3 separate regions of the Homo sapiens genome follow, and regions 1 and 2 are each linked to region 3. The links come from fine-mapping of genetic effects on gene expression. A gene starts in region 3. Each other region holds a variant in brackets. All regions are shown on one strand. Distances are from middle to middle.

Region 1 (10,480 bases), 170 kb before region 3:
TTGTCCTCAGTAGAAGAGAACAGTTTACCCAGGGTCACTCTTCCTCCATAGGGCATCCATGAGGGGGTCTCAAGGTCCTTTTCCCTTGCCTTGAGGTGGAGCAACTCTGAAGCTCCCCAAGGGATCAGGATCAGCTGAGATCTTTGTTGTAACTGCACCTCAGTCCAGCTTCTACCGATTCTCCAACTTGCTTCCTTCTTGTCACCAAGAGTACTCATCTATAAACTTCTGCACACGGATCTCTGTATCAGCTTCTGTTTCCCAGGAACCTGACCCACAACAACACTTGACATAGGTTGTCAACGAGTGAATGAAAGACTAAATTGACTCTTTATTTGAGATGTAAATGCTACTCTTTTTGCTCTGAAGTCTAAAAAGATGTTTGACTTACAATTTCCCCAGAGCATTAAAGAAGAGCTTACTTTAAATTGCACTTTGGACGATGGAGAGTGTATCCTTTTCATCCACGGGTGCCATATTCAACTGGTTGAAAACCTTGACAAATGTCACAATAGTCCACTGGACTTGGACATTAAGAACGGTTGGTGGGGGAAATGCTACAAGGTGAACTGGTGGACGACATACATGTGTGCTTTCCAGGGTCCCTGTTCTCATTACCCCCACTTCAGCCTGCAGCTCATGTAGTATTCAACAGGAGAGGGCAGCAGATTGTGGCTGCTCAGTGAATTGGGAGAAAAAGACGAGGTTGGAAGGTAATAAGTGGTCTACCTATTTTCTAATGGGAAAGAGTCTACTGAACAGTATGTGGGAGACCTCACAACTGATAGCTAGTTTGTCATTTTGGTCTCCGTTTTATGAAATCTTCATATTATGTTTCAATACTAATAGGAAATAACATTTGGTGGGGTGGCAGAGGGGGGACATATTTTGGAGAAATAAACAAACATCCTCTCTATTTTTCATCGTCACCCTTGTCAACCTGAGTTTTGGGGGTGGGGGGGTGCAAACATGAAAAATAAGACATTTATTAAATAGGCTAAAGATGAACTGTTTTAAGGGTCAGAAAACAGGGGATTTCCTTATGTCTAGAAGCCACTGGGTTTTTTTGTTGCATTTACAAAAGGGGCCTACACTTTCTTCTTGACCTTTCACAGATTCTGTGAAGAATCGTGACCTTTCCCAAGGTCAGAGTAAGAGGTGGACTCGCCTGCATCTACCAGAAGATGCCTCAGATAACTCACACCAAGTGTTGAGGTTTTCTGAGCACTGCTGTAAAACTTGCACAAAGTGACTGTGGAGTTTCTAAGCCAGAGCAGCAGCCTTTGAAATTAATTATTGATTCAGAGAGAAGTTTCCTAGCAGTAGTGGGAGCTTAGTGGGACGAGCATGGGAGTGAGTAGCAGACAGACCCAGGCTTGTCCCCTAGGCCCTGTCACTAGCAGCTGTGTAGCACTAAGCACACTACCTGCCTGTTGGAATCAGTTTCCTCACTTGTAAAATGGGAAGAATAATTACAGCCTGAGGTGACTGTCCAGGAATCATAAGGCAGGAGCTGAGAAAGTTCGACTGTAGCATTTTTAAAAATGAAGAATTGGCCGGGCGTGGTGGCTCACGCCTGTAATCTCAGCACTTTGGGAGGCTGAGATGGGTGGATTGCCTAAGCTCAGGGGTTTGCAACCAGCCTGGGCAACACGGTGAATCCCTATCTCTACTAAAATACAAAAAATTAGCCAGACTACGGTAGCTGTAGTTCCAGCTACTTGGGAGGCTGAGGCAGGAGAATTGCTTGAACTTGGGAGGCGGAGGTTGCAGTGAGCCGAGATTGCGCCACTGCCCTCCAGCCTCGGCGACAGAACGAGACTCTGTCTCAAAAAAAATAAATAAAATTTAAAAAACCCAAAGAATTAAGAAGTTTGCCTGAAGTGACACAGTGAGTCAGTGATACACACACACACACACACACACACACACACACACACATTTTTCTTTGTCTATGAGATTCCTTTGAAGGACTTCAAATTTTTATACTTGCCCTCGGTGGAAGAGAACCAGCTCACCCGGGGCCACACCTTCTTTATGGGGCACTCATGGATGGTTAAATTGAAAATATTATAATACCCAGAGCACCCAGCATCTTGGCACAAAAAACATTCTCCATAAATCTGCAGACCTCAGGTGGCTGGAGCAGCATCTCATCCCCACAGGAACCATGGTAGGTTGGGTGTGCCGGGAGGAGGAAAGGCATCATTCACCTTTTGTTAAGACTTCTGCCGAAAAAACCTACTATTGTGAACCTGGGCTTTCGTGAGGGTAGAAACTTTATTTACTCTAGTGAAATAGATCATTCTGAAAACAACCCAAATATGAGCTGATTTCAGAAGGCAATTGTGGTTTCGGAGAGTATACCACAGGATAGCAAGGGCCAGCTTCAGGCCCCAGCTCATGGAGCTCTGCCCAGATAAGTGACCAGCCCTGGCGTCTTCATCTATAAATGAGATTAGATGAAAGTTGTGGTTTCCAAACTGTATTCTGAAGAACCCAAGTATCCCCAAGACACCTCAGGCTTCTGCAATATTTTCATTGAAGTTTCTTTTAAAAAACATTTTCCATGATTAGTCCAGGCTCTGGAACCAGGCTGACATGGTCCTGGTCTCAGCCCTAACACTCATGAGCCGTGTGACTGTGTGTGAATTATTGAATCTTTCTAAGATTCAACTTCCTCTTTCATAAATCGGGAATAATAGTTTCTACCGAATAGAGTTGGTGAGAAGATTTAAAAAGCTTACACATGTGAAGTACTTAGAAAAGTGTCTGATAAATACAAGCACTCAAATGCTAGCTGTTACTTTGCTGGCCACTGGATGCCACCAATCTATGAATTGTTATGTCAGGTAAAATAGTTTTGATGCTGGATTCTGTGGATTTAGAATAAAATCCAAATGTTTCACCGTGGTCTATGATGAGATCAACCCACTTTTTCTGCAAGGGGCCAAGTATAAACATTTAAAATAGTTTTACTTCTCAACTCTGCCCTTGTATCCTGGAATAGCCATAGGCAATATGTAAATAAGTGAATGAGGCTGTGTTCCAATAAAATTTTATTTATATATACTGGAACTCTAATTTCATATATCAATCTCTTTATTCTTTGCTTTTTCCCCCAAAGATTTGAAAAGCTAAAAATCATTCTTAGCCTGCAGCTGTACAGGCAGGCTGTGGGCCAGATTCTGCTCACGAGTGAGATTCTGCACAATGAGCAATACTTTGCTGACCCCTGGTCTGTAAGACCCCATGTCTTTATAAGCCCCCCACTTTCTATCATGCTTACTACACTTTAGCTCCCCAGCCTCTTCTGTTCTAACCCAGCTAGTGTCTTCCCATGTGAGGGCTTCTGTATACACAGCTTCCTGATACCCTCCTCGTTTAGGTCTTCAGCCCAACCAGCTCCTGCTCAGTTTTAACTGTTGGTTTCATCATCACCTGTTCAGGGACGCCATGCCCTAACTAAGAGTGTAACCCCTGCCCCACATCCCTTCAAAGTTACTTTCTATCATATTACCCAGTTTATTTCCTAAAGAGCATTTATCAAAATCTGTAATTATCTTGTTTATTTATGTATTCATTCTCTGTCTCCCACTCCATCAGAGCAGGGGCCTTGCATTCTTTTTTGCCACTATAGCTCCAGCCTGCCACTCTGCTGGAAATAGTGTTCAATAAGTATTACAGAATGATGAATGAATCCACAAGCTCAGTATCTTAGTTTCATTCATTGAGTTGATAATACCTGATCTCCTTACTTTGTAAAATTGTTATGAGGATCAAATGAGGAAGTGTTTTTTTTTTTAATTATAAAGAGTTATACGAAGGGAAGTGGTAAATCATTAAGGCAACTTTCATGCGTGTCTGTGTGAAGAGACCACTAAACAGGCTTTGTGTGAGCAATAAAGCTTTTAATCACCTGGGTGCAGGCGGGCTGAGTCCGAAAAGAGAGGCAGCAAAGGGAGATAAGTGTGGGGCCGTTTTATAGGATTTGGGTAGATAAAAGAAAATTACAGTCAAAAGTGGGTGTTCTCTGGCGGGCAGAGTGGGGGTCACAAGGTGCTCAGTGGGGGAGCTTTTGAGCCAGGATGAGCCAGGAGAAGGAATTTCACAAGACAATGTCATCAGTTAAGGCAGGAACAGGCCATTTTCACTTCTTTTATGCTGGAATGTCATCAATTAAGGCAGGAACTGGCCATCTGGATGTGTATGTGCAGGTCACAGGGGATATGATGACTTAGCTTGGGTTCAGAGGCCTGACATTCCTGTCTTCTTATATTAATAAGAAAAATAAAACGAAATAGTGGTAAAGTGTTGGGACGGTGAAAATTTTGGGGGGTGGTATGGAGAGAGAGAATGGGCGATGTTTCTCAGAGCTGCTTCGAGCGGGATTAGGGGCGGCGTGGGAACCTAGAGTGGGAGAGATTAAGCTGAAGGAAGATTTTGTGGTAAGGGGTGATATTGTGGGGTTGTTAGAAGGAATATTTATCATTTAGAATTATTGATGATGGCCTGGATACAGTTCTGTATGAATTGAAAAACTAAATGGAATAAGAGAAGGAGAAAAACAGGTATAAAAGGTCTAAGAATTGGGACGACTCAGGACATCTGATTAGAGAGAGCCTAAGGAGATTCAGCATAGTCCTGCCAGCAAAGATTATTTATTTACTTCAAGAGTTAAGAGTGGCAGTTTGGGGATAGCACCAGGAGATATCAGCTGTGATGGCTTGGAGAAACAGTGTAAACCGGCAGTGTAAACAAGAGCAGGGCATGTATGAGTAGTTGAGAATGGTGAATAGGAGTATGACTAGAGAGAAGATAGTAGGGATGACAAGTTTTTTGGGGGCACAGTCTAAGTTGGTCTGGTGTCTGGAATGAGACTGGGGCCTAATAAAAAGGAGTGTCTATACAGGAGCTCAAATGGGCTGTACCTTGTAGCATTCTGAGGACAGGTCTGACTTCTGAGAAGGTAAAGTGGTAAAAGTATTGTCCAGTCCTTTTTAAGTTGGTGGCTGAGCTTGGTGAGGTGTGTTTTTAAAAGACCTTTAGTCCGTTCTACTTTTCCTGAAGACGGAGAACCGTAAGGGATATAAAGGTTTCACTGAATACCAAGAGCCTGAAAACCTGCTTGGCTGATTTGACTAATAAAGGCTGGTCTGTTATCAGACTGTATAGAGGTGGGAAGGCTAAACTGAGGAATTATGTCTGACAGAAGGGAAGAAATGACTGCGGTGGCCTTCTCAGACCCTGTAGGAAAGGACTGTACTTAACTAGTGAAAGTGTCTACCTAGACTAAGAGGTATTTTAGTTATCTGACTCGGGGCATGTTGAGTAAAGCTAATTTGCTAGTCCTGGGTTGGGGCAAATCCTCGAGCTTGATGTGTAGGGAAGGGAGGGGGCCTGAGTAATCCCTGAGGGATAGTAGAATAGCAGATGGAACACTGAGAAGTTATTTCCTTGAGGATAGATTTCCACGATGGAAAGGAAATGAGAGGTTCTAAGAGGCAGGCTAGTGGCTTGTACTATAGCATAGCCTGCCTTTGCTGGTGTGTGGCAATTAGGCCTGGTGGAACCGCCA[T/C]CAATAAATCAAGCGTGATCAGGGTGAGGAACAGGAAAGAAGGAAATATGGGGAAATGGGGTGAATGTCAGGTGGATCAGAGAGATACAGTCATGGGGGTCAGGTGTGGTATCAGGAATAACGTGGGAGGCTGGATTGAAGTCCAGGCCAGGAACAATGGTAATTGTGGGACTTAACAAAGAGTGAGTACAGCTGAAGGAGCCGGGGAGCAGAAAGCATATGCATCAGGTATGAGGAAGAAAATAGATTTTGGAAGTTATGAGAAATGTAGAGAGTGAATTGAGCATAGTTTGTGATTTTTAGGGCCTCTAAAAGTATTAAAGCAGCGGCAGCTGCTGCACACAGACATGAGGGCTAGGCTAAAACAGTAAGGTCAAGTTGTTTGGACAGGAAGGCTACAGGGTGCGGTCCTGGCTCTTGTGTAAGAATTCTGACCACGCTAACCATGCCTAGGAAGGAAAGGAGTTGTTGTTTTGTAAGGGATTGAGGTTTGGGAGATTAATCGGACACGGTCAGCAGGGAAAGCACGTGTGTTTTTATGAGAATTATGCCGAGATAGGTAACAGATGAGGATGAAATTTGGGCTTGACTGAAGTAATGGGGGCTGTCTGTGAAGCCTTGCGGCAGTACAGCCTAGGTAATTTGCTGAGCCTGATGGGTGTCAGGGTCAGTCCAAGTGAAAGCGAAGAGAGGCTGGGATGAAGGGTGCAAAGGAATAGTAAAGAAAGCATGTTTGAGATCCAGAACAGAATAATGGGTTGTGGAGGGAGGTATTGAGGATAGGAGAGTATATGGATTTGGCACCACGGGGTGGATAGGCAAAACAGTTTGGTTGATAAAGCGCAGATCCTGAACTAACCTGTAAGGCTTGTCTGGTTCTAGGACAGGTAAAATGGGGGAATTATAAGGAGAGTTTATAGGCTTTAAAAGGCCATGCTGTAGCAGGCGAGTGATAACAGTCTTTAATCTTTTTAAATCGTGCTGTGGAATGGAATCTTGGCATTGAGAGGAGTAAAGGTGATTAGGTTTTAATGAGATGGTAAGGGGTGCGTGACCGGTCGCCAAGGAGGGAGTAGAGGTATCCTATACTTGGGGGTTAAGGTTGGGGGATACAAGAGGAGGATGCAAAGGAGGCTTTGGATTGGGAAGAAGGGCGGCAATGAGATGTAGCTGTAATCCAGGAATAGTCAGGGAAGCAGATAATTAAGTTAAAGTGTCTCAGCCTAATAAGGGAACTGGGCAGGTGGGGATAACTAAAAAGGAGTGCTTAAAAGAGTATCGTCTAAGTTGGCACTAGAGTTGGGGAGTTTTAAGAGGTTTAGAAGCCTGGCTGTCAATACCTACAACAGTTATGGAGGCAAGGGAAACACGCCTTTGAAAAGAAGGTAATGTGGAGTGGGTAGCCTCCGTATTGACTAAGAAAGGGACGGACTTACCTTCTACTGTGAGAGTTACTTAGTGTCTGTGTTGGTCCTGTAGGCTTCTGAGGCGATCAGGCGGTGTCAGTCTTCAGCTGCTAAGCCGAGAAGATCTGGGAAGGAGTCAGAGAGCCTTGGGCCAGAGTTCCAGGGGCTCTGGGAGTGGTTGCCAAGTGAGTTGAACATTCTGATTTCCAGTGGGGTCCTGCACAGATGGGATGTGGCTTAGGAGGAATCCTGGGCTGTGGGCATTCCTTGGCCTGGTGGTCAGATTTCTGGCACTTGTAGGAAGCTCCTGGGGGAGGAGGTTCTGGAGGAATGCCTGGCCGCTGTGGTTCAGGCGTTTGGAAGTTCTTGTTTGCTGGAGATGTGGCTGGGGTTTGTCTTACAGTGGAGGCAAGGAATTGCAACTTTTTTCTATTATTGTATACTTTGAAGGTGAGGTTAATTAAATCTTATTGTGGGGTTTGAGGGCTGGAATTTAATTTTTGGAGTTTTATTTAATGTCAGGAGCAGATTGGGTAATAAAATGTATATTGAGAATAAGACAGCCTTTTGACCTTTTAGGGTCTAGGACTGTAAAGCGTCTCAGGGTTGCTGCCAAACAAGCCATGAACTGGGCTGGGTTTTTTTTTTTTTTTTAATACTTTAAGTTTTAGGGTACATGTGCACATTGTGCAGGTTAGTTACATATGTATACATGTGCCATGCTGATGCGCTGCACCCACCAACTCGTCATCGAGCATTAGGTATATCTCCCAATGCTATCCCTCCGCCCTCCCCCCACCCCACAACAGTCCCCAGAGTGTGATGTTCCCCTTCCTGTGTCCATGTGATCTCATTGTTCAGTTCCCACCTATGAGTGAGAATATGTGGTATTTGGTTTTTTGTTCTTGTGATAGTTTACTGAGAATGATGATTTCCAATTTCATCCATGTCCCTACAAAGGACATGAACTCATCATTTTTTATGGCTGCATAGTATTCCATGGTGTATATGTGCCACATTTTCTTAATCCAGTCTATCATTGTTGGACATTTGGGTTGGTTCCAAGTCTTTGCTATTGTGAATAATGCCGCAATAAACATACGTGTGCATGTGTCTTTATAGCAGCATGATTTATAGTCCTTTGGGTATATACCCAGAAATGGGATGGCTGGGTCAAATGGTATTTCTAGTTCTAGATCCCTGAGGAATCGCCACACTGTCTTCCACAATGGTTGAACTAGTTTACAGTCCCACCAACAGTGTAAAAGTGTTCCTATTTCTCCACATCCTCTCCAGCACCTGTTGTTTCCTGACTTTTTAATGATTGCCATTCTAACTGGTATGAGATTGTATCTCATTGTGGTTTTGATTTGCATTTCTCTGATGGCCAGTGATGGTGAGCATTTTTTCATGTATTTTTTGGCTGCATAAATGTCTTCTTTTGAGAAGTGTCTGTTCATGTCCTTCGCCCACTTTTTGATGGGGTTGTTTTTTTCTTGTAAATTTGTTTGAGTTCATTGTAGATTCTGGATATTAGCCCTTTGTCACATGAGTAGGTTGCGAAAATTTTCTCCCATTTTGTAGGTTGCCTGTTCACCCTGATGGTAGTTTCTTTTGCTGTGCAGAAGCTCTTTAGTTTAATTAGATCCCATTTGTCAATTTTGTCTTTTGTTGCCGTTGCTTTTGGTGTTTTAGACATGAAGTCCTTGCCCATGCCTATGTCCTGAATGGTAATGCCTAGGTTTTCTTCTAGGGTTTTTATGGTTTTAGGTCTAACGTTTAAGTCTTTAATCCATCTTGAATTAATTTTTGTATAAGGTGTAAGGAAGGGATCCAGTTTCAGCTTTCTACATATGGCTAGCCAGTTTTCCCAGCACCATTGATTAAATAGGGAATCCTTTCCCCATTGCTTGTTTTTCTCAGGTTTGTCAAAGATCAGATAGTTGTAGATATGCGGCGTTATTTCTGAGGGCTCTGTTCTGTTCCATTGATCTATATCTCTGTTTTGGTACCAGTACCATGCTGTTTTGGTTACTGTAGCCTTGTAGTATAGTTTGAAGTCAGGTAGCGTGATGCCTCCAGCTTTGTTCTTTTGGCTTAGGATTGACTTGGCGATGCAGGCTCTTTTTTGGTTCCATATGAACTTTAAAGTAGTTTTTTCCAATTCTGTGAAGAAAGGCATTGGTAGCTTGATGGGGATGGCATTGAATCTGTAAATTACCTTGGGCAGTATGGCCATTTTCACAATATTGATTCTTCCTACCTGTGAGCATGGAATGTTCTTCCGTTTGTTTGTATCATCTTTTATTTCCTTGAGCAGTGGTTTGTAGTTCTCCTTGAAGAGGTCCTTCACATCCCTTGTAAGTTGGATTCCTAGGTATTTTATTCTCTTTGAAGCAATTGTGAATGGGAGTTCACTCATGATTTGGCTCTCTGTTTGTCTGTTGTTGGTGTATAGGAATGCTTGTGATTTTTGCACATTGATTTTGTATCCTGAGACTTTGCTGAAGTTGCTTATCAGCTTAAGGAGATTTTGGGCTGAGACAGTGGGGTTTTCTAGATATACAATCATGTCATCTGCAAACAGGGACAATTTGACTTCCTCTTTTCCTAATTGAATACCCTTTATTTCCTTCTCCTGCCTAATTGCCCTGGCCAGAACTTCCAACACTATGTTGAATAGGAGTGGTGAGAGAGGGCATCCCTGTCTTGTGCCAGTTTTCAAAGGGAATGCTTCCAGTTTTTGCCCATTCAGTATGATATTGGCTGTGGGTTTGTCATAGATAGCTCTTATTATTTGGAAATACGTCCCATCAATACCTAATTTATTGAGAGTTTTTAGCATGAAGGGTTGTTGAATTTTGTCAAAGGCCTTTTCTGCATCTATTGAGATAATCATGTGGTTTTTGTCTTTGGCTCTGTTTATATGCTGGATTACATTTATTGATTTGCGTATATTGAACCAGCCTTGCATCCCAGGGATGAAGCCCACTTGATCATGGTGGATAAGCTTTTTGATGTGCTGCTGGATTCGTTTTGCCAGTATTTTATTGAGGATTTTTGCATCAATGTTCATCAAGGACATTGGTCTAAAATTCTCTTTTTTGGTTGTGTCTTTGCCCATGGGCTGGGTTTTTTACATTTGATGAAAGAGCCTAAACGCTTACTGATTTGGGAGAGGTCTGATGAAGAAAAAGGAGCATTAACTTTGACTATGCCTTTAGCTTCAGCCAGCTTTTTAAGAGGAAATTGCTAGGCAGGTGGGTGAGGGCTACTCACAGAATGAAACTGTAAACCTGACCGGGTGTGAGGAGGGGAGGTGATAAAAAGATTATAGAGTGGAGGAGCGGAGGCTGAGGAAGAATTGGGACTTAGCTCGGCCTGGCGAGGAGCAGCCTGGGGAGGAGGGGAGAGGTCAGATGGATCTGTAGAAAGGGAAGATTAGAAAGACTCAGCAACGCTTGGGGTTGGGACTGAGGGGACAGGTGGGAGGGAA
Region 2 (10,480 bases), 160 kb before region 3:
TTAACAATGAGGATCTTTGCTGTCTTAGGCTATCTTTGAAAGAGACTTTAGATCTTGAGAGGGACTGCATGTATCCTCCATAAAACTCAGTTCTTACATTTATTGGTTTTAAGTTATAAAAATTCTTACTGATTTTGAGTCACAATTGAGGCAGGAATACCTTTAGAGGTTTGGAAGCTATTTGTATGACTCTGGACACTCCTTAATGATCCTCCCCCTGCTGTAACTGTCTGATGGGTTCTTCTGCCTGCTGCACAAATAAAGACCATGACATTGCAATAAAGCAAGAGTTGAATTGATGTCAGGCTGGCCAGGCATGCCAGCATGGGAGATGGAGTTACTACTCAAATCAATCTCCTCTAAAATTTGGAGACTGGGGTTTTAAAGAATGATTTGGTGAGTAGTGAGTCAGAAGGTAGGCAGTGCTGATTGGTTGGGTTGGAGATGAAATCACAGGGAGTTGAAACTGTTTTCTTGTGCTAGTAGTTAGTTCCTGGGTGGAGGCCACAAGATCAGATGAGCCATTTTATCAATCTTGGTGGCATCAGCTGGTGTATCGGAATATGGGGAGTGCAAAAAACAAAACAAAACAAAACAAAAAGCTCAAGTACTGATTTCAAGTTTTACAACAGTGACTCCTAAACCATAATTTCTAATCCTGTGGCTAATTTGTTAGTCCTGCAAAGGTAGTCTAGTTTCCAGACAAAAAGGGAGTTTGTTTTGGGAAAGGCTGTTATCATCTTAGCTTCAAAGTCAAACTATAAACTAAGTTCCTCCCAAAGTTAGTTCACCCTACATCCAGGGATGAGCAAGGGCAGTCTGGAGGTTAGAAACCAGATGGAGTCAGTTAGGTCAGATCTCTTTCACTGTAATAATTTTCTCAGTAATTTTTGCAAAGGCAGTTTCAGTCTCTCTCTTTGGGTTTTATAACACCTTATTCTTAAGATGTGGGCTATGAAGATGGAAAAAGCACAATGACCACTCTAGCTTTTTCTTGCTGACATGTGGCATGATGGGAGTAGGAGCTGACTCCAAGGTAAGAGGAGTGGAACTGCCTTGCAGCTGTCTGCACACACTCAGGGTGCCTAATCGGGGTTTCAAGGCTTGCATGACAAAGGCATTAGTATTCTTCTCTATCGTTTTAGCACAGCATTTAAATGAGCTATAAAGTAAATAATGAGTTCTAGGGTAAGGAGTGAGAGTCCTAGCTTCAGAAGCCTTTGTGGAACTGATCTGAAGCTCTGAGGGATCCAGGTGAATAGCGCGAAGAATCAATCAGAAATGGGGTCTGTAGTAGAGAGATATTTGGGTCAGAGGTTATTAGAAAGACTGATTAGGATAGACAGGAAAGGGCAAATTTAAATATACCAACCCATATATTTTTAATTGGTTTCCTAGTCCTGAGACTAGATCAGTTCAGTTAAATAGCTGTTTACCATATCAGGAAGTGGCAGTGCAGATGGGCTAGGCTTCTGTATGTGATGACAGCAAACAAGCTTTTAATAGGAGGCATTTCTGTGGAAACAGAAGAAAAACAAAGGTTAATGTTGGGCATAATTTATTGAAACATTAGACTCAAAGCATCTTTAGTTATAGAGGAGGAAGGCAGTGGCAATCTGACATGTTTTTCTTGCCTGTACCACAAGGAATAAGCTTCAGCTTTCAGGGCCTCAGGGAAGATATAGCAGCAATTTCACTGAGTTCAAGTCAGAAAAATGAAAGAAAGATTTGAAAACATTAGTTTTGGGACCTGTAACCCAGAAAGAATTCAGGAATCAGTCTAAATTGCAGAAAATAATAAAAACTCAAAAGCAGTGGACAAGACTAGAATCTAACAACAGAGGTACTATAGCTTTCTCTGAAATACAGTTTGTCTCTCTCCAGTCCCCATTTTTATTAAAAACAAATTTGCTTGCAAAATAAGTGTTAGTCTTATCATACTTGGCATGAATATTTGCATAAAGTCAGCAAGAATAATTATTTGCCATATAGGCTTTTTTGAAAATTGACTTTAATGGAACTTTATTCCATAAGGAATTTCAGCTTAGATTTTTCAAAGCCTTGAGCCCAGCCATGGATTTATCTGTGCCTGCAAATATCAGTATGACCCTTGGGTGAATTCCTCTCCTTGAGGTTCCAAGATAACTTGGGGCTCCTGGGCTTGTCAGAAAGTGATATTGTTCACTTACCACAGATCGAGAACCCTGGACAGGGACTGCATAGAAAAGGTTTAAGGCCAGTGTTTACCAGGGGTTTTCTTGGCCCTATAAGTCAACTTTGATTTCTTAAAGCAGTCTGTTTGTATATGGAAGTATGCCATTACAGTCAAAACCTTGGTAAAATAATCAGTGTCTCCAGCGATGTCCTGTTATAAAAGCAAACATTATTATTACATGTAGGCAAATAACTATACTGCCATAAAGTTAAGAATACTCACAAATAGTTTCCAAATTCCGGAGAAATCAGGTAGAGAGAAAGAAATATGCTCCAAGGTTTTCTCACAGAGTATACTTTATTCAATTGATAAAAGCTGTAGTTAGCTCAAAAGAAAAAAAATTTTTCTTGACTCTAAAAACAAAACATAAAGAATCAGTAAATGTTTTAAACAAAAAATCATAAGAGATAATTTCAGTCTTCTATTAGTTCAGTCCATGCATTAACTCCTGTTCTGCTTGATACTGAATTAGCAAACCTCAAGAATATATTAGCTCTCCATGAAAGTACTGAAAATTTGTTTTTTCCCCCTCTATTCCAAGGACCATGGGAGCCAAGAAGCATCACAAGGGAAAATCATCTCCTTTTGTTTCATAAAACCATAGGCAAAAGCCTGTCAGTTTTGCAAGATGATGCCCAACAGACTGCCTGGGGAACAAATGAACATTTTCCATCCCAGCCAAAGCAAAATACATATAACAAAATAGACACTAGTCACCTTTCTCAGCACCTGATATTGACCTGGCAAGGCTCAAATTTGCCCCTGTTCATCCCTGTCATCTTTGATCCACTCAAGGTGGGGAGAGATGACCTTCAACTGCGAATTCAGTGGGTGATCTGTGGGCAAGATGAAGAGCAGATGGTCACCCTGTGTCAGACCTGTGGAGCTTCTGCTAACAATTGCTTCAGGGTTTACCTAATGTGACCAAATAAGGAGAGTTCTCCAAGTTAGGCCTGCTTGACTTCCATTAGCATTTTTTTCAGAGATCACCTCCACATATACAAACACAGACACAACAAACACAAGACAGACAGAAGACCTTCTAAACAAAGATCCCTAACCAATAATTCTAAGTATTCTTTCCAAACTAACCACCTACTCTCTTCCTGAGAAATCTCCCCAAAATCTTCCTGATTAAGGAAAAATCTCCTGAACCAAGACTCTTCCTACTATTTAGGGAGATTCAGCCAAGCCCCTTAAAGGAGCTGAACCAAGACCCCAGAAGAAGCCAAACCAATCAGGAGAAGAAAGGAGGTGCTGGAAGCACCTAGAATATGCACCAAATCAGACACCCCATGATAGGACCACAGACAGACATCTAATGATGGGGTTACAGTTATAGGACTTTTTCTCCATTGCAATGAAATCCATGCACCATGGATTGTCAATGCCCTGCCAGTAGAAACAGTGCCAGAGACAGCCTCCAGTCCAAGAGAATTAGGCAGCCTCTTGGGCTGGCCTCTAGATCCATTGCTGGAGAGGGGGCTACCAAACCACAAGCAGTAGTCACAAGGGTGATCCTGGATGAGCCCTCAAATTTGGAACTGCCCAATGTGTTCTTCCTGCCCACTGCACAAATAAAAACCATGGCATTGCAGTAAGGAAAAAGTTTAATTGATGTGAGGCCAGCCATGCCACATGGGGAGACAAAGTTATTACTAAAATCAATCTCCCCCAAAATTTTGGAATTGGAGTTTTAAAGGATAATTTGGTGTGTAGAGAATCAGAAAGCAGGGAGTGTTGATTGGTCAGGTAGAAGATGAAATCATAGGGGTTTGAAGCTGTCCTCTTGTGCTGTCAGTTCCTGGGTGGATGACACAAAATCAGATGACCCAGTTTATCAATTTGGGTGGCATCAGCTGGTGTATCAATCAATGCAGGGTCTGCAAAATATCTCAAACACTGATCTCAGATTTTACAGCAATGACTCCTAAGCCATAATTTCTAATCCTGTGGCTAATTTTTTAGTCCTACAAAGGCAGTATAGTCCCCTGACAAGAAGGGGGTTTGTTTTTGGAGAAGGCTGTTATTGTCTTTGTTTCAAAGTTAAACTATAAACTAAGTTCCCCCCAAGTTAGTTTGGCCTACACCTAGAAATGAACAAGGACAGCTTAGAGGTTAGAAGCCAGACAAAATTGGTTAGGTCAGATCTCTTTCACTGTAATAATTTGCTCAGTCATAATTTTTGCAAAGATGGACAACTTTTGTTTTCCTGTTTTGTCTTACTGACTGTTCTTTCTTTTTGATTCTCCATTTATCAGGGGCATGTAGGTTATCCCAGATTTCTTTGCTGCAGGCAGCCAAACAAAAAGTTGAGCGCCTCAAGAATATGGGTGAACTAAAATGTGGGTTTACATCCATTTGTGGCTAGCTAAGCTTTCCTTTCCTTGGTTGTCCTGTGAGAGTGGTCTGGATCTTGGAAAGGCCACCTTGGTTAAAGCCATAAAGGGGCTTATTAGTTGAGTCTTGAGTCACTTGTTGAATATACCTTTGGATTAAAATTTTGGTTTATATTCAGAGCATGTTAAAAACATTTTTTTTTTGTTTTATTGGTTTGCTTTCTGCCTTCTCATTTGAGCTAAAAAGGTACTTTGTACTCAAAAGAGAAATTTGATTATTAATTACCCTGAACCTCTAAAAACTTTCAGTATTTCTCTGTACCTGTCAATTCTCTCCCTTGTCTTACCTAAGAAACCATCCCTCTTAAAATGCAAACTTCAGGGAAAGAAAAGCCAGGAAATGAGAATGTTTGCTGTTTGCCCAAAACTGCTAATGATATACTTAAAAGATTTTTAAAAAGAGCATTATTCTCAGAAGTCAGCTTAATTAAAAGGTGATATTCAGACTATATATATTTTTAAGGCTTTTCTCCTCTTGTTGGGATCTTATTTCTCCCATGAGAACTTCTTAGTCAGCCAAATTATCCCACATTCCCCACCTTTTTTGTTGTTTGTTTGTTTGTTTGTTTTAGGCAGAGTCTTGGTCTGTCACCCAGGCTGGAGTGCAGTGGCTCCATCTCAGCTCATTGCAACCTCTGCCTCCCAGGTCCAAACAATTCTCCTGCCTAAGCCTCCCAAGTAGCTGGGATTACAGGCATGCACCACCACACCTGGCTAATTTTTGTATTTTTAGTAGAGACAGGGTTTCGCCATATTGGCCAGGCTGGTCTCGAACTCTTGACCTCAGCTGATCTGCCTGCCTTGGCCTCCCAAAGTGTTGGCATTACAGTCATGAGCCACTGTGCCTGGCCTTTTTTTTTTT[TC/C]TTTTTCCTTTTTGCTAACTAGAACGTCATTGGCCTTTTTGGAAAACTTCCAGACTGGCTCCTCTAAAACTTGTTTTACCAGTTATCATTTCTGTCTTTCCTTCCTTTTACCACTTTTGATCTTTCACCCAGTTCCCTTGTTACGTTCCCTTGGTACATTCCCTTCACGCCCCTACCTCTTTACATAGCCAGAACCAAGCCAATTGGGCTTTACATGTTTATTTCTGGCACAGTGAAGTATTTTCTTTCTTCAGGAAGAAGATTGTTTTTGGTCCTCAAACAACTTTCAAATAAACCCTCCAAAACAAAAAAACCAAAAACAGACACTTTGCTGATTTAAGCTTAAACAAATCCCAAGTACACTATTCGTTTTCTCTGGATGTGCAAGCAGCCTTTACGTACATCACAAAAGAGCAGAATGAGTTTGGGAATCTGTCAAGCAGAGAATGGCTGAGAACCAGCCAGAAGGCTAAATATAGCCTGGTCTTTTGTCAGATATGAACATTAGCTGTTATGTTTCCTCAGGAAGTAAACCCTGCCAAGGTAGTAGACAGTTGGGTTAATGAAAATCTGTATTCATGTCCTCGGTACAAATTTGCATTCAAGGCTTATTTTAAGATCTTATTAGCCTAACATATAATTACTTCAAAAAAATAGAGTCAGCTGGGTGCGGTGGCTCACGCCTGTAATCCCAGCACTTTGGGAGGCCAAAGCGGGTGGATCACCTGAGGTCAGGAGTTCGAGACCAGCCTGGCCAACATAGTGAAACTCCGTCTCTACTAAAAATACAAAAAAAATCAGCTGGGAGTGGTGGCAGGTGCCTGTAATCCCAGCTACTTGGGAGGCTGAGGCAGGAGAATCACTTGAACCCGGGAGGCAGAGGTTGCAGTGAGCCGAGATCACAACATTGCACTCCAGCCTGGGCAACAAGAGTGAAATTCCATCTTAAAAACAAAAACATAAAAACAACAACAACAACAAAAAATGGTCTATGGCTTTTAGAAGTGCAGATTCTAGTTTGAGCTGAATGTGCCCTCTCTCTTACCCAAATTCTCACTCTCTGGATCATTCTTGGTGCAACTCCTTGAGGTAGATGGTGGGTAGTAGTAAACCATGAAGGTGACATGGAGTTCAGGGCACTATACCCGAAAATATTGCATCTCAGCCTATTGAATAGTTTAAGATGAAGGAATCTGAGAAAAAAACAGGAGCAGAAAGGTCACTTTGACTGTTCTCCCCCGCCCCACCCTTCTCCCCTGAATCAGGTGATAAAACCTAGGAAGGACTCTAACCTTTCCTGACGCAGGTCCTGAGAACTTCATGTGAAAGGTGCCTTCCCTAGAGCGGGAGAAAATGAGCACCCTCATCTCTGAAGACAGAGGGACACCCAGGGGAATCTGAACACACAGGCCTCATTAAGTCCTCCCAGTTTATTACCATTAGATCATACTCTTAGTTCTATCACGTTTCTCCATGACTATCTATTCTTCATCAAATTTTGCATTGAAATATTCAGGTTTAACTAGTTTTCTTCAAATCTTCATTTCCTTATGAAGGCTTTTGTGTCATGTGAAGGAAAACAGGGAGCTTCACCCCCAAATATGGCTCCCTGGTATAATGAGTATTTTGGGTTTTTGTTTGTTTGAGTCTCGCTTTGTTGCCCAGGCTGGAGTACTGTCATGGCTCACTGTCAGCTAGACATTCTGGGCTCAAGCGATCCTCCCACCTCAGCCTCCTGACCAGCTGGGACCACAAGTGCACACCACCACACCTGGCTAATTTTTGTATTTTTTTGTAGTGACAGGGTCTTGCTATGTTGCCTAGGCTGGTCTCAAACTCCTAGGCTCAAGCAATTCTCCGGCTCTGATCTCCAAGAATACTGGGATTACAGGTGTGAGCCACCACACCCAGCTGAGTATTTTGAATTAAAGGCCCTTAGAGATCAACAGATGCTAAAAGAAGCCTTTCCCCTATCTACATAAAGACTGGACAGGCCCACCAAGGAGAACAATTGCTTTTCCTTCCTCTATCCCCTCTCAGTCCTCTACCTGTCCCAAAGCACAGGATGAGGTTATTCTCATATCTACCAAAGAAGGAAACAATTACTTCTGGTCCCTTCTCGGAGTTTCCATTGACTGAACTCACATCACAGGATGGAAGACTAAAGTCTGACAACAAACCTGGACAGACTTTTGTCCCAAATGACTGTCCACTCTGTAGGCCTGACCGACTTTGTCCCAGACCATTGTATGTTCTTCAAGTCCATTGAATTTCCTTAAAAATCATTTACTATCTGCCTAAAATCACCCACACCTCCCCATTCTCTTTCCCCTAAGATGTAGGGCATATAAGCATCTGTACCCCGTTGGGAGACTGGGCACTCACTCTGTGATACTCTACAAGCTCACGTAGTTAATAAATTTATTTATGCTTTTTCTATTAATCTGCCTCTTGTCAGTCATTTTCAGTGAACCTTTAGAGGGCAGAGGGAAAGCTTTCCCTTGGCCCCAAGACATGAAAAACTTGTATGCTTTTTCTTTTGTTAATCTATGTTTTGTTATAGGGGCCTCAGCCATGAACCTAGGATAGGTAGAAGGAAATATATTTTTTGTCTCCTAGTTTGCACATAGGGCAGGGGAAGCATTTTGAAGCTTGCTATTTTCACACAGAGTGGGTGTTCAGCTCCCCAGTCTGAATGGCATGGAGGCTTGATGCCTGGTCAGAAGGGTCCAGAGACACACAGTGCTGCTGGAGCATCCTCCCCTTCCATCAGCAGAAAGCGCCCTCTGGCCTTTTGAAAACAGAATCACACTCTGAATGCACATTTATGAAATAATAATGAACAAAGTAACATCTGAAAACATGATAGGAAGAGACCACTCAGAATTTAAAATGACATTGCTCTGGATCAACTGAGAAGTTTCTTTTTATTAAATCATCTATGAACCATTTAATGGAGATGCTCCTGAAAGGTGCATCTGTAATTACAATGGTGCCATAGCTGTATCAACAGGGGAGAGCTCTCAGCCAGGAAAGCACAAGTGCCACGGAGAGTTTACAAAGAATTTGGCAATACAGGTAGGTGTGGTTTTCCTATAACTACAAATAGTCTTCAAATAAATACACCTGAATCACATACAAAAAAAAATACAATAGCCTTATAAATGAGAAAGAAACCAATACACCTCTCCAAAATAACAGGTTTAGAATGATCTGTGTATAACCAAAATGCCTTGGCATGGTGTTTCCATCTTGAGTGGCAATCAAAGAAAGAAGCAGTACATATTTTCCATTATACACATCTATCCTGTACAGAGTCCATGATAGTTGAACAGCTGGAAAATTCCAATTTGTTGTGTAATGGCAGCTAAGTGTAAAGTATTTGCAAGAACTGATTGTATATTAAGTTCGACTAGTCATCACTATAATTTTAAACCTACATACACCAATCCTACTATTATTTGTACTTAAAAATGAAGTTATTTCATCTGCATTTACAATCTTTTTCCCTTTTCGCTTGAATTTTCATTATAGCTAGTCACTTTCCTAGGGAAATTCAATATGTTGAAGTATTAAAGAGAAGCAAATCCAATTTTAATTCTATGTTTAAAAATGAAAAGCTTCTGCTATCACCTAACAAAATATCCCCCATCACCTTTGTAAAGTGAACATTAACCTAAATAGATGTTAAATCGCTCTTTACCCCACCCTCCTCTGCCTGTCTCATCTCTCCCCGCAATGCAGCCTTTTAGACTAGTGCCTCTTCTTTCTCACACGTGTGCTGGATTGCAATTTAAATGCAAATAACCCTGCACCTCATTATCTAAGTTCGTGCAGACTCAGTAACAGTTGCCTGTGCTGAAGGCTGTGAAATCAAACGGAGGTTCATCTGTATTCTAACACATGGATTACTTAGAGTAATTTCAAAAGAGCAATTCATCACTGCTTTGAAATTAAACACTGGACTTGCAGAGTGCCTAGGTTACGGAGGAATGCCTTTCTTTTACCACATAGGGAAGCCTTTCCACAAAGGCAATGAGATAGGAACTTCTTTTACTGTAGCTGTTCAATTAGTTCCCAACAACACTAGGTAATTGAAATAAGAGACTTCATTTTAATACGAATACAGCTAGTTGAGTGGAAAAGACACACTTATGGTAATGTTAAGCACAATGACAAGACAATCTATATGCATTCCAAATACCACTAACAAGGAAATTATCAACAATGATTTACCAAACAGACATCACTCCAGAAGGCATATTTTTTATTTTTTATTTTTTGCAAAATCATCTTTTAAATATAAGGTTACTTTAAAATAATTCTTTGGTTAAAGTATAATTAAAATAAAAAGTAGAAACTCCTCCAAGCCTTTCACTACAGAGTGAAAAATACGCCCCTCTTTCAGCCATCAGATGGCCATTTAATCAGCCATTCAGATTCTATGAATCTAAATGTAATGGAAAACACTGTAATCTGAACTCCATACTGGGGTGAAGCAATAAGCTCCTAGCTACCAATGCAGTGATGGTGAAGAGAGCCTGGGAAAATGAAACCCCCAGCTTATGCATTAAAATGTGCCAATTACTCTGGTCCATGGAGGAACAGACGCGGTATTTTAAAATCACAGGAAACAAAGTTCTGTCTGTGAATAACACTGGGGCATTACCGGATTGATGTGGCACACTTGTAGAAGCAGGAAATGCTTTCAGGCTTTCAATCCCAGATTAAAACCTTTAGTTAATTTCATTTCACCTAGTTTATTTCAAATAACTTTCTACATTAAAACAAAATTCCTCTGTACAAGAAACCATTTGCTTCTTATCTGTCAATTCCTTCCTTGCCCTTCCTTCTCCTCTCCCCATACATCATTTGTTTTAATAAGCATCAGCTTCAGATCAAAAAGAACCAGCTGCAACTTCAGGTTATATATATTAGCCTATACTTTTTGGATGTATATGAAATTGAGTAATATAGTTGTCTCTTTCTTTTATTATACATAG
Region 3 (10,107 bases):
ACCTCGTGTAGCCTGGAAAGTTCAGGAGACTTGCAGTTTAGCCTGAGGCTCTTATGGCAATGCAGTCCCTGCATACCAACTGTGTGACTCTAGACACGTCCTGAACTCCTCTAAGCCTCCAGTCTCATCTTAAAACAAAGCATATGTTGTGTGCTTTACCTCACAAGACTGCTGTGGGGTATCTAATACACATAAGAGCAATTTTTACAGTGTATAATAACACAGATAGAAGGGCGTGTTATGTGGGTGCACAGTCACAGCAGGTAGATTAGAGACTTCCTTGCCCTGCCCACCTATAAGAGCCCTTCAGCTCCAGGTGGGTTCCAGTTTTTCCTCTTTCTGTCTATCCAAGGCTGGGAAAGCAGCTGCAGCCCCCACGCCAGAGTCAGCTACATTTCAGAGATGTTGGGTTGGCCAAGTGTTCTCAGAGGATCCAATGTCAACCAACAGGTAAGCTGGAAAAAGCCAGGGAAACCAGATACTTTAATTCATGGGCTCCACATGCCGCTTCTCAACTCCTCATGCAGCCAACTTGGAGCTGCTTTTATCTTTGGGCAGTGAGGCATAGCTAACACAGCTTACTGTCCAAAGCCAAGTCAAAAGCGCTCATTCCAGCTCTTTCCTTCTGCCACTGCCTTGCTCTTTAATTTGGCATTGTTCAAATATTCTCAGTAGAAAAAAAAGGACAATCCAATAATACACGTAAATCCTCGCCAGACACCTCAACCACCATCTCACCTCCTCTCCCTTCTTGCAATCCAACACAATAATGCCCCAATCACATCTTGCATCCTGATCCTATCTTTAACTTTCCCAAGTTCTTTTCTGTCTGTTATCTCATTTTGTCTTTGGAAAGGCCCGTGACACATGACAGGTCTTGCCACGCACAGAAGCTGGTGAAGATATTAAGGAAAAGAGGTTAAATAGAAGACCTAAAAGGTGCAGATATCATTCAGAAGCTAGACCAGACCTTAGGACCTTTGATCCCTGCCACAGTGTCCTTCCCAAGACTATTATCTCTTAATCACTGGAAACATTAAAAAGCCATTTGTTGTAGACAAAGTTCTAGCCACCAGCAGCCTCAAAAAATAAAAATAATAAAAAAACTCATCAGGGTTGTATCAGCAAGGATTCCTCCAATTCAATTATTCAGTGACTTGCTCCAAGGCCCAGCATCAGCCCCAAGCTACAGAAGAGATGAGAGCCTGTCTCCCCAGAAACCAGAGGTCAGCAGGGGGATGACAGTGCTCTGACATCGGATCTGGCTGTGCAAAGTGATGGCTCTGATCTGAGTCCTGTCCCATCTTCTCCGGTGTTAGGCTCAGACCCTCTCCTGGCCTGTGAGGTCTCCTCTTCCTCAGGTCTTTGCCCCCAATACATTCTTTCTTTTCCTTCCAACCAACCTCACTAGCCTCAAGGAAGCTGGACCCTTATTTTTAGAACCCTTAAAACAGGGAAGTGCTAGTGGGCATAGAAAAAAGGAAGCGATTGGCCATTTTGACCTTTGAAAGGTTTCCTTCCTGATGCCTCCCGAACACCTCCTTAACTTGGACTTGCACACGAGCGCACACGCACACACACACCGTGAAATCGCCACTTCTCAGTCCTCCATGAGGCAAATTCTCCTATAGCAGTGTCTAAGTTGGACTGAAGTTCATATAGTGGAATGGAAAAAACCTAGCCCAGCTCCAGGGAGTAATGAGCTAGAGAGAGCACACCCTGAGGTCACCCTGCTTGAGCCAGCCCTGCAGCCCTCTGGTCCTCTTAGCTCTGTCAAGCACTTAACAAGCATGCAGTCATTAATTGCGTTCCCCTCAGAGGGCAACAGCATGGCCCTGAGGGGACTAAGTGACTTTTGCAAGACCACAGCACAGTGCAGCCCAGCACGGGCTGGGTGGGATCCAGCCTTGCTGGCCTCAACCCTCTCTGCCAGCCCACCAAGAGCCTGGCCTGAGTGCCCCTTCTTGGTGCCGCACACCACCAGACCCAGTTACACCCATAGGGGAAACTAGAGCTGTCAGCCCTGGCTGCTGTCACTCTGTCAAAAGGGCCTAGAGCTGTCAGCCCTGGCTAATGTCAGTCTGTCAAAAGGGCCAGGTTTGAGACAACCATCTTACCCCTTCTTAAAGCATCACATCCAAGTCTTCTAGACCCAGGAGACCATCACTGCTCTTTGGGGCTTTGGATTTTCATTATGCTCAGCCCTCCAGGCATAAAGCTCAAGAGAGAAGCTTCTGATGAGCTAAGCCCGATGCCCTTGCTCTTTCTTCTCAACTCTCAAAAATGAAGTTAAATGCCTGTTCTCTGAAGCCTCCGAGGGCCCCTCTTCATACTGGTCTAAGTTACTGGGGGGAAGGCCGACCACATCAGCCTTTCTGGGTTGAAGTAGAGGAGGGAAGCAAGCCTGGGCAAGGAGTCCAACTAGATCAGGTGACCTCCAGGACCTTCACTCCCTTCCAGGCAGAGAATTTAAGAAAAAGAGCAGCAAACCCAACCTCCCTCTCTCCAGGCCTGCTCTTGTTACCTCTTTGGTAAAGAGGGGCAGTGCTAGTAGTAATATAATAATAGCTGTGATAGGCTAAATAATGATCCCCCAAAAGACACCCACATCCTAATCCCTAGAAGCTGTGAATGCCGCCTTATACATTTTTTTTTAAAGGACTTTGCAGATAATGATCTTGAGATGGGGAGATTACTCTGGATTATCCAAGTGGGCCCTAAGTACAACCACATGTATCCTTATAAGAGACATGCCAAGGAAGATTGGACACAGACAGAAAACAAAGACAATTTGACCACAAACGCAGTGATTGGATTGATGCAGCCACAAGCCAAAGAATGCCAGCCCCCAACAGAAGGTAGGAGAGGCAGGGAGTGGATTCCCCTAGAGCCTCCAGAGGGAGCACGGCCCTGCTGATGCCTTGATTTCAGCCCAGCGATACTGATTTTCAACTCCTGGTCTCTACAATTGTGAGAGAATAAATTTCTGCTGTTCTAAGCCACTCAGTTTGTGACAATTTGTTACAGCAGTCACAGGAAGCTAATACAGTAACTAACACTTCACGATTGCTCACTATGTGCCAGGAACTGTTCTAAGCATTTTACCCACATTCAATCATTTCTATCCTGGCCCTACTGGCCCTAGATGGTGTGAGGCCTGGGCTGTGCAGATAGAATACCTGGGTTTGAATCCCAGCTTCACTGCTTACTGTTGTGACCTTGAGCAAGTTATGCAACCCTTCTAAACCTCAGTTGCCCAATTCATAAAATGGGCATGTGGTACCTTCCTCATTGAGTTGCTAGGAGGATAAAATGGGTAATAAAGATATAAGTACTTAGAACAGTATGGAGTAAGTATTCAATACATGCTAGCTATTAGGAGACCTCAGGGGTTAAACAAGCCAAAAATGACCCTTATGCTAATCTGTCAAGACATGTCAAGACCTCCTGGACTCAGAGCAGGAGAAAAGATGTCCCTTTAAAGCTGATTTGAATTTGAATCTCAAATATGACTGAGGAGTTCAGTTAAGTATTTCTTCCCTTAATTAAGCAATTTAGGTTTTTAATGCTGGCCTTATTTCAAAAAAGGCAGTAGCCTGAGACTATGCTAATTCTGCAGCATTCCCCAGCTGACTTCCCCACTCCCACCTCCAGCTTTTTTTTTTTTTTTTTCTTGAGATGAAGTCTCGCTCTGTAACCCAGGCTAGAGTGCAGTGGTGCGATCTTGGCTCACTACAACCTCCACCTACTGGGCTCAAGCGATTCTCTTATCTCAGCCTCCCAAGTAGCTGGGATTACAGGCATGCACCACCCCACCCAGCTAATTTTTGTATTTTTAGTAAAGACAGGGTTTCACCATGTTGGCCAGGCTGGTCTCAAACTTCTGATCTCAAGTGATCCGGCTGCCTCAGCCTCCCAAACTGCTGGGGTTACACCCAGCCCCACCTCCAGTTTTTAAGGAGAGCTGTGCACATTGATCATCCACACCGACGACTTCACCTGAAGCGTCCACACCTGACACACCCCTGCAGAACCCACATTTTCTCCCTGTAATTCTGGTATCAGGAACTGGAGCCCTAGTATTAGGAAGTCGTATTGGGACGTCAGTGGAAGGCAGAAACCATCAGTCCATTTTGCAGCCTTCTAAGGCCACTCCAACGTGTCCCAGCAGCCTGGAGAATAACAAATTCAAGGGTCTACTTTGATTAACAGATTACAACCAAGTTAGTAGAGAATAAACAAGGTTTGCCCAGAGATAAGGGAGGGGAGACATAAAGTTATTGCCTGTAATCCCAGCACTTTGGGAGACCGAGGTGGGTGGATCACCTGAGGTCAGGAGTTCGAGACCAGCCTGGCCAACATGGCAGAACCCCATCTCTTCTAAAAATATAAAAATTAGCCCGGTGTGGTGGCGCATGTCTATGGTCCCAGCTACTCAGGAGGCTAAGGTGGGAGAATCGCTTGAACCTGGGAGGCGGAAGTTACAGAGATTGCGCCACTGCACTCTAGCCTGGCGACACAGCGAGACTCCGTCTCAGAAAAATAAATACATAAATAAAGTTATCACCTGAAAAAAAAATGTGAGAAGGGAAAAAAATAAAAAGGACTTTCATTTACTTGGCCCTCACTGATTAAGTTTGGCCAACTCTCCTGTTCAGGTGCTGTAATTCAAAGATGAAAAGAAGCTGCGCCCAGTCCGGACGCCAGGCCTTGTGTCCCCACCTAAGAAATCTGCACGGCAGGGATTAACCAGGGGAGAAGGGCCTGGCCGCTGGGCCTTGGCTTCCTCTTAGGCAGAGTTCCAGCCCCTGAGACTTGAGCCGACCGGCCTGAGACGACTCCGGCCGCCGCCACCCTATGCTGGCAAACAGGCCTCTCCCCAGCAGGCTCCAGGGGCAGCCACCTGCGCTCTCCCTGCCCTCCCCTACCCCACTCTCCTAGAGGAAGGATGAAGAACAGCTCCCCCTCCTTACTCTCAGGCACCCACAGATTTCTGAGCTGCCGTCACCACTGACGAGAACCCAGGTCCCCTGGAGGGATCGCTTCTCCTTCTGATTCCATCCTCCCCATCAATGAACACGCAGGAACACCCACGCTCCCGCTCCTCCTACTCCAGGGGGAGACCGAACCCGAGAGCGACATCCGGAGCTGGAAGCCGCTGCAACGGGGGCGCCGGCCTCCCTGCCCCGCAGTCTCCCGCCCTTTCCCAGACACCGGAGGATCCCAGACCAGCCCAGTATTCCAGACGGAGAGGGTGCCCGAGTCCTCCGCAGGGCCCCGCCTCCCTAGGCGCTCGGCGCTGGAGACCTAGGGGAGCGCGCGAGAGAAACGCTGAGCTCCACCCGGCTGGGGCGGAGGCTGAGCACTATACCCGGGACTCGAACCCCGCGCCCTCGTCCCCCAGCTTTAGGCATCCCACGGCGAGCCCTGGCCCAACGCCCCCGCGCCGCGTCTTCCCCCGCACCCCCGCCCGGAGCCGAGTCCCGGGTTGCCAGCGCGCCCATCCCGCCCCCAACAGGTCTCGGGCAGCGGGGAGCGCGCTGCCTGTCCCGCAGGCGCTGGGAGGCGAGCCGGAGCGAAGCCGAGGGCCGGCCGCGCGCGCGGGAGGGGTCGCCGAGGGCTGCGAGCCCGGCCACTTACGCGCGGGCTCTGGGGAACCCCATGGAGAGGAGCACGTCCAGCGCCGATCCATGCTTGATGGTGCCGGGGCGCTGTTGGCGGTTCCTCCGGGGGGTGACTTTGCTGTACAGCTCCTCTCTCGCAGCCATGCCGAGCGGACTGGGGTGGCCGTACTGAGCCATGGCTCAGCGGCCAGCCATCGCCAGGGAAGGAGCCCGAGCCGGATGGTTCGGGAAGGAGGAGGGAGTCGGGCTGGGCCAGGGGAGGGGGCTCGGGGACCCAGAGCCAGGCAGGAGGCGGCGGCAGCGGAGGCGGCGCTCCGAGCTTCCCCAGTGTCGGGACTCTGACGCTTCCTGGTGAGGCCACAGGAGCCAGAACGCCGGCAAGCGGCCGCTGCGGGACCAGCCTCAGCCACTCGGGCCCCCGGCTGCCCCCAGCTCTGCGCCTGCAGTAGCCCTGTCTCCTCCGCCCCCTTCCCTCTCCTCGCCTAGCAGTCCGGGAATTTGCAATGAGTAATTTTTGAATGGATCAAAAAGGAAAAGGAGCCTTGTGGGCTGGCCCTGACTTGCCTGTACCCGGGCCCCGCCCCTCTCTTAAAGCGGCCGCGCTGTCCGAGGCTGCTCCGTGCGGGCAAGAGCTGTAGTCGCGCTACTTGGAGACGGAGGATCCCAACCTTATGGGCTGCTTGTGTGCTTCACCTCCCGAGAGTCACCCCCGGCGCCCCAGCCCTCTCCTTGGCTGGCATACCCGCCCAGCTGGGCCTCAAGACAGGAGATCAACCCATCTCAAGTTTCATGTGATTCTAGATGCGGTTATTAATGGAAATTGGGTGAACTGGTGGATGATACTAATGGACCAGAAGGCCAAGCCGTAAGGCCTAGGTAAAAGGTTTTGCTTCTCAAAGATCCTGCAAAACCCAAAGGGTTGTTAGGACCATCGGAAGTTGAGTTCCCAATCAGCCGGCCAAGTGGCTGCACTAAAGACCTACTGCGCTCTACAAGGTTATGGTCAGTGACTGAATAGTGCCTTCCCGGTGGGGCAGAGGGGTTGGGGAGAAGGACCTCAGGTTCTCAGAGGTGGCAGGACCTGGGAGGGGACAAGAAAAGAGGGACAGGGCAGAAAGAAGAGGGAAGGGAAAAAGAAAGGAGGAAGGAGGAGGAGAAGAAGGAAGGGCTAGGAGGGTAGAGGAAGAAGGAACAGAGAAAACATACTTCCTAATTATAAGAGGTGTTCAAAAGGGAACGGGCTTATTTCATTAGGGAGTGGATATCCTGTCAATAAAAGGATTCAAAGACGGACCGAATCACCACTGCACAATAATAAGTGAATTGTATCATAGGCTGGACAAAACTACTCCCACTGCAAAGATGGTGGAAGCCACAACCATATTGATGCCCCATGCCCCACCTGGTGAATTTGGCTGGGGGATGCTAACCCTCTTTCGTTTGGAAACAAAGTCATTGTCTTCAGTCAGGGACAAGGGTCCCACTTGCTATAATGAAAGAGGCAATGAGTACACCCTAACTGATAGTCTTTTTTGGGTAATAATAATAATAAAACCTAACATTTATTGGGCTCTTGTATGTGCCAGTCATTGTGCTAATCGTAATGAATGAACTCACTGAAGTTTTATACTGACCCTAGGAGTGTGTTTAATCATTATCCCAGTTTTACAGATGAGAAAACTCAGCTCAGAGAGGTTGGGGAAGATCATAGAGCTGGTAAGTGCGTAGCTACAGCACTCGTATCCACTGCGGTGCCTTAGACAAGTTACTTCTCTCTACAGCCTAATTTCCTCATTGGTATGGACCGTGGTAACCTAACCTTGCACACACTGGGTTTTCCAGAAATGTCAGTCCGGGCCTGTCCCTGGTTGGAATATGGGGGAGGGATGGTGACCAGCACCCATGGAGTGGCTTTTTGAGGTTGCTTTATAAGGCCTGTGAAGGTTTTACCAGGGGAAATGATACAGTGTAACTCCCTGAGCCCGGAATTGGTTTCCTAAAGAATAGCCAGTGGTGTTTGGAAGCAGGGAGATAAGACAGCTGGAGCTTAAGCAACAATGTGTATTAATTCTGCCTCCTGCTGTACAAAGGATGAGGGAAAATTAATGCTTCCTGGGTAGTAGCTGCTTCCAGAGCAAAGGGGATATCCTGGAGACCTTGCAGAATGCTCTTCCAGGACATGGAGCAAAAAGACAAGACTGGGCTGGCAACACCATACCTAGTATTAGCCTCCTTGGATGTGTTCGGTAAAACATGCTGGATTTTATCCAGTATTCTGAATTGTTTCCAAATGCCTGGGCTGAAAGTCAAATGATCTGGATCTTAGTCAAGAGATAATAATGTATGTGAAAGCGCTTTGTAAACCATAAAGCGCTACATAAATGATAACTCAAATTTATTGAGTACTTACTATATGCTGGTGTTGTTCTTTGCTTCTTACATATGTGACTCAAACAATTCCTTGACAAGACTATGAACTAGGAACTACTTTACAAATGAAGGTGCTGAGCCAGAGGTCAAGTATCTTGTCCAAGGTCACATGGCTAGTAAATGGCAGAGCCAAGATTTGAACTCTTAACATTTGGCCAAACAACTAGTTAACGACCATTGTTATGATGATAAAAGGACACCAGCCTTTAAGATAGTTTTTTGACTCCATCTATGCCCCTTGACATAGAATTGCTGGATCTCTGTTTCTCCAGAAAAATTGAATTAATTGTCTTTCTCCCTGCCTTTAGGCAAACTGTAAGATAAAGGAAATGATGCATATAAAAATAGTTTTAGGTAGACTGGAAAAAGCACTATGAAAAACTAGGCACCTGAGATGCAAACTGTTTTTGTCTGGGACACTTTTACAGAAATCCCAGCTTGGCTTCCTCACTTGTCTTCAGCTCAGTGCAAACCCCTGTTTTATTTAGGACTCCTGCCATTTGTTCTGCACTGGGTTGGGGGGCTGGCAATTCAGATGCATTGTGCTTTAATTGTGTTGACGTTGAAAAGCTAGGAAAAGCTTCATAAATGTCTACACTGTTCTATTACAAAGAGAGAAGAGGGGGGCTGGGTGCGGTGGCTCACCCCTGTAATCCCAGCACTTTGGGAGGCTGAGGTGGGCGAATCACAAGGTCAAGAGATCGAGACCATCCTGGCCAACAAGGTGAAACCCAATCTCTACTAAAAATACAAAAATTAGCTGGGCATGGTGGCATGTGACTGTAGTCCCAGCCACTCCGGAGGCTAAGGCAGGAGAATCGCTTGAACCTGGAAGGCGGAGGTTGCAGTGAGCTGAGATCATGCCATTGCACTCCAGCCTGGTGACAGAGCAAGACTCCATCTCTAAACAAATAAATAAATTGAGAGAAGAGAAATGACTATTCATCTGGCAGTATATCTTACAGTGGCCAAAAGAAGTGAGATGGGAGTAGGGGTCTTGCACAGGGACAGAGCTGACACATCAGCATGAAGTTCCTCCCTCAGAAGGGAAAGCAAGTTGACATGTCTCCGTGTGTGGTCATGTCAGAATCCACTCTGGACCACAAAGCTCTCTTTGTTCATGTGAGCATGTTTAACCCTCCCTCATTGGCCCCTGCCATATTTTTGCTATGGTACATCCTCTCAGATGGCCAGAGGGAGACCCAGGATGGACCCAGTTGGCTGCACTCACAATTTCTGAAGCATGTCCTATATCTTCTCCTTCTCCTTCACTCTGTCCTTGAGGAACGGTCAAGTAATAACAATAAGAACATGCAGTAGGTCTGTAATTCTAGTACTTTGGGAGGCTAAGGCAGGTGGGCAGATTGCTTGAGCTCAGGAGTTTGAGACCAACCTGGGCAAAATGGTGAACCCCATCTTAATTAAAAATATAAAAATTAGCCCAGCATGGTGGTGTGTGCCTGTAGTCCCAGCTGCTTGGAGGGCTGAGGCAGGAGGATTGCTTGAACTTGGGAGGTCGAGGTTGCAGTGAGCCAAGCTGAGATGGCACCATTGCACTCCAGCCTGAGTGACAAAGTGAGACCCTGTTAAAAAAAACAAACAAGGCCTGGCGCGGTGGCTCATGCCTGTAATCCCAGCACTTCGGGAGACCGAGGCGGGTGCATCGCGAGGTCAGGAGTTCAAGACCAACCTGGCCAAGATGGTGAAACCCTGTCTCTACTAAACATACAAACAAATTAGCCAGGTGTGGTGGCAGGTGCTTGTAATCCCAGCTACTCGGGAGGCTGAGACAGAGAATGGCTTGAACCTGGGAGGCAGAGGCTGCAGTGAGCTGAGGTCACGCCCGCCACTGCACTCCATCCTAGGCAACCGAGCGAGACTCCGTCCCAAAACAAAACAAAACAAAAAAACAAACAAATAACAACAACAACAAAAACAGGCAGTAAAGTCTGCCCACTGTTTCAAATCCTAAAGGCTGGGGTGTTGCCTTGCCAAACAAAGGCAGCTTTGGAACTGCTGGGAATGACTTTCACCCCTAGACTTTAAGGGGATC

The links. PIP is the estimated chance that this variant, and not a neighbour inherited with it, causes the effect.
Region 1: its variant is the best candidate, but not a certain one, in a credible set for the expression of UBASH3B in lung (TOPMed, PIP 0.60).
Region 2: its variant is the best candidate, but not a certain one, in a credible set for the expression of UBASH3B in whole blood (INTERVAL, PIP 0.89).

The regions. Positions count from the first base shown.
Region 1 is chr11:122,826,197-122,836,676 of GRCh38, reverse strand. No RefSeq gene overlaps it. Among named protein-coding and RNA genes, the nearest start is that of CRTAM, 7.1 kb to the left of the region's middle. RefSeq lists an enhancer at 3,829-4,501. The variant T/C (reference allele first, on the strand shown) is at 5,579.
Region 2 is chr11:122,812,379-122,822,858 of GRCh38, reverse strand. UBASH3B (ubiquitin associated and SH3 domain containing B) reads right to left here. Exons shown (of 14, transcript NM_032873.5): 14 at 8,386-10,480. Among named protein-coding and RNA genes, the nearest start is that of CRTAM, 21 kb to the left of the region's middle. RefSeq lists enhancers at 9,051-9,658, 9,659-10,267. The variant TC/C (reference allele first, on the strand shown) is at 5,477.
Region 3 is chr11:122,651,744-122,661,850 of GRCh38, reverse strand. It overlaps UBASH3B (ubiquitin associated and SH3 domain containing B), which reads right to left and starts at 6,129. Exons shown (of 14, transcript NM_032873.5): 1 at 5,641-6,129. The coding sequence starts at 5,801. RefSeq lists a silencer at 5,470-5,519 and an enhancer at 5,723-6,224.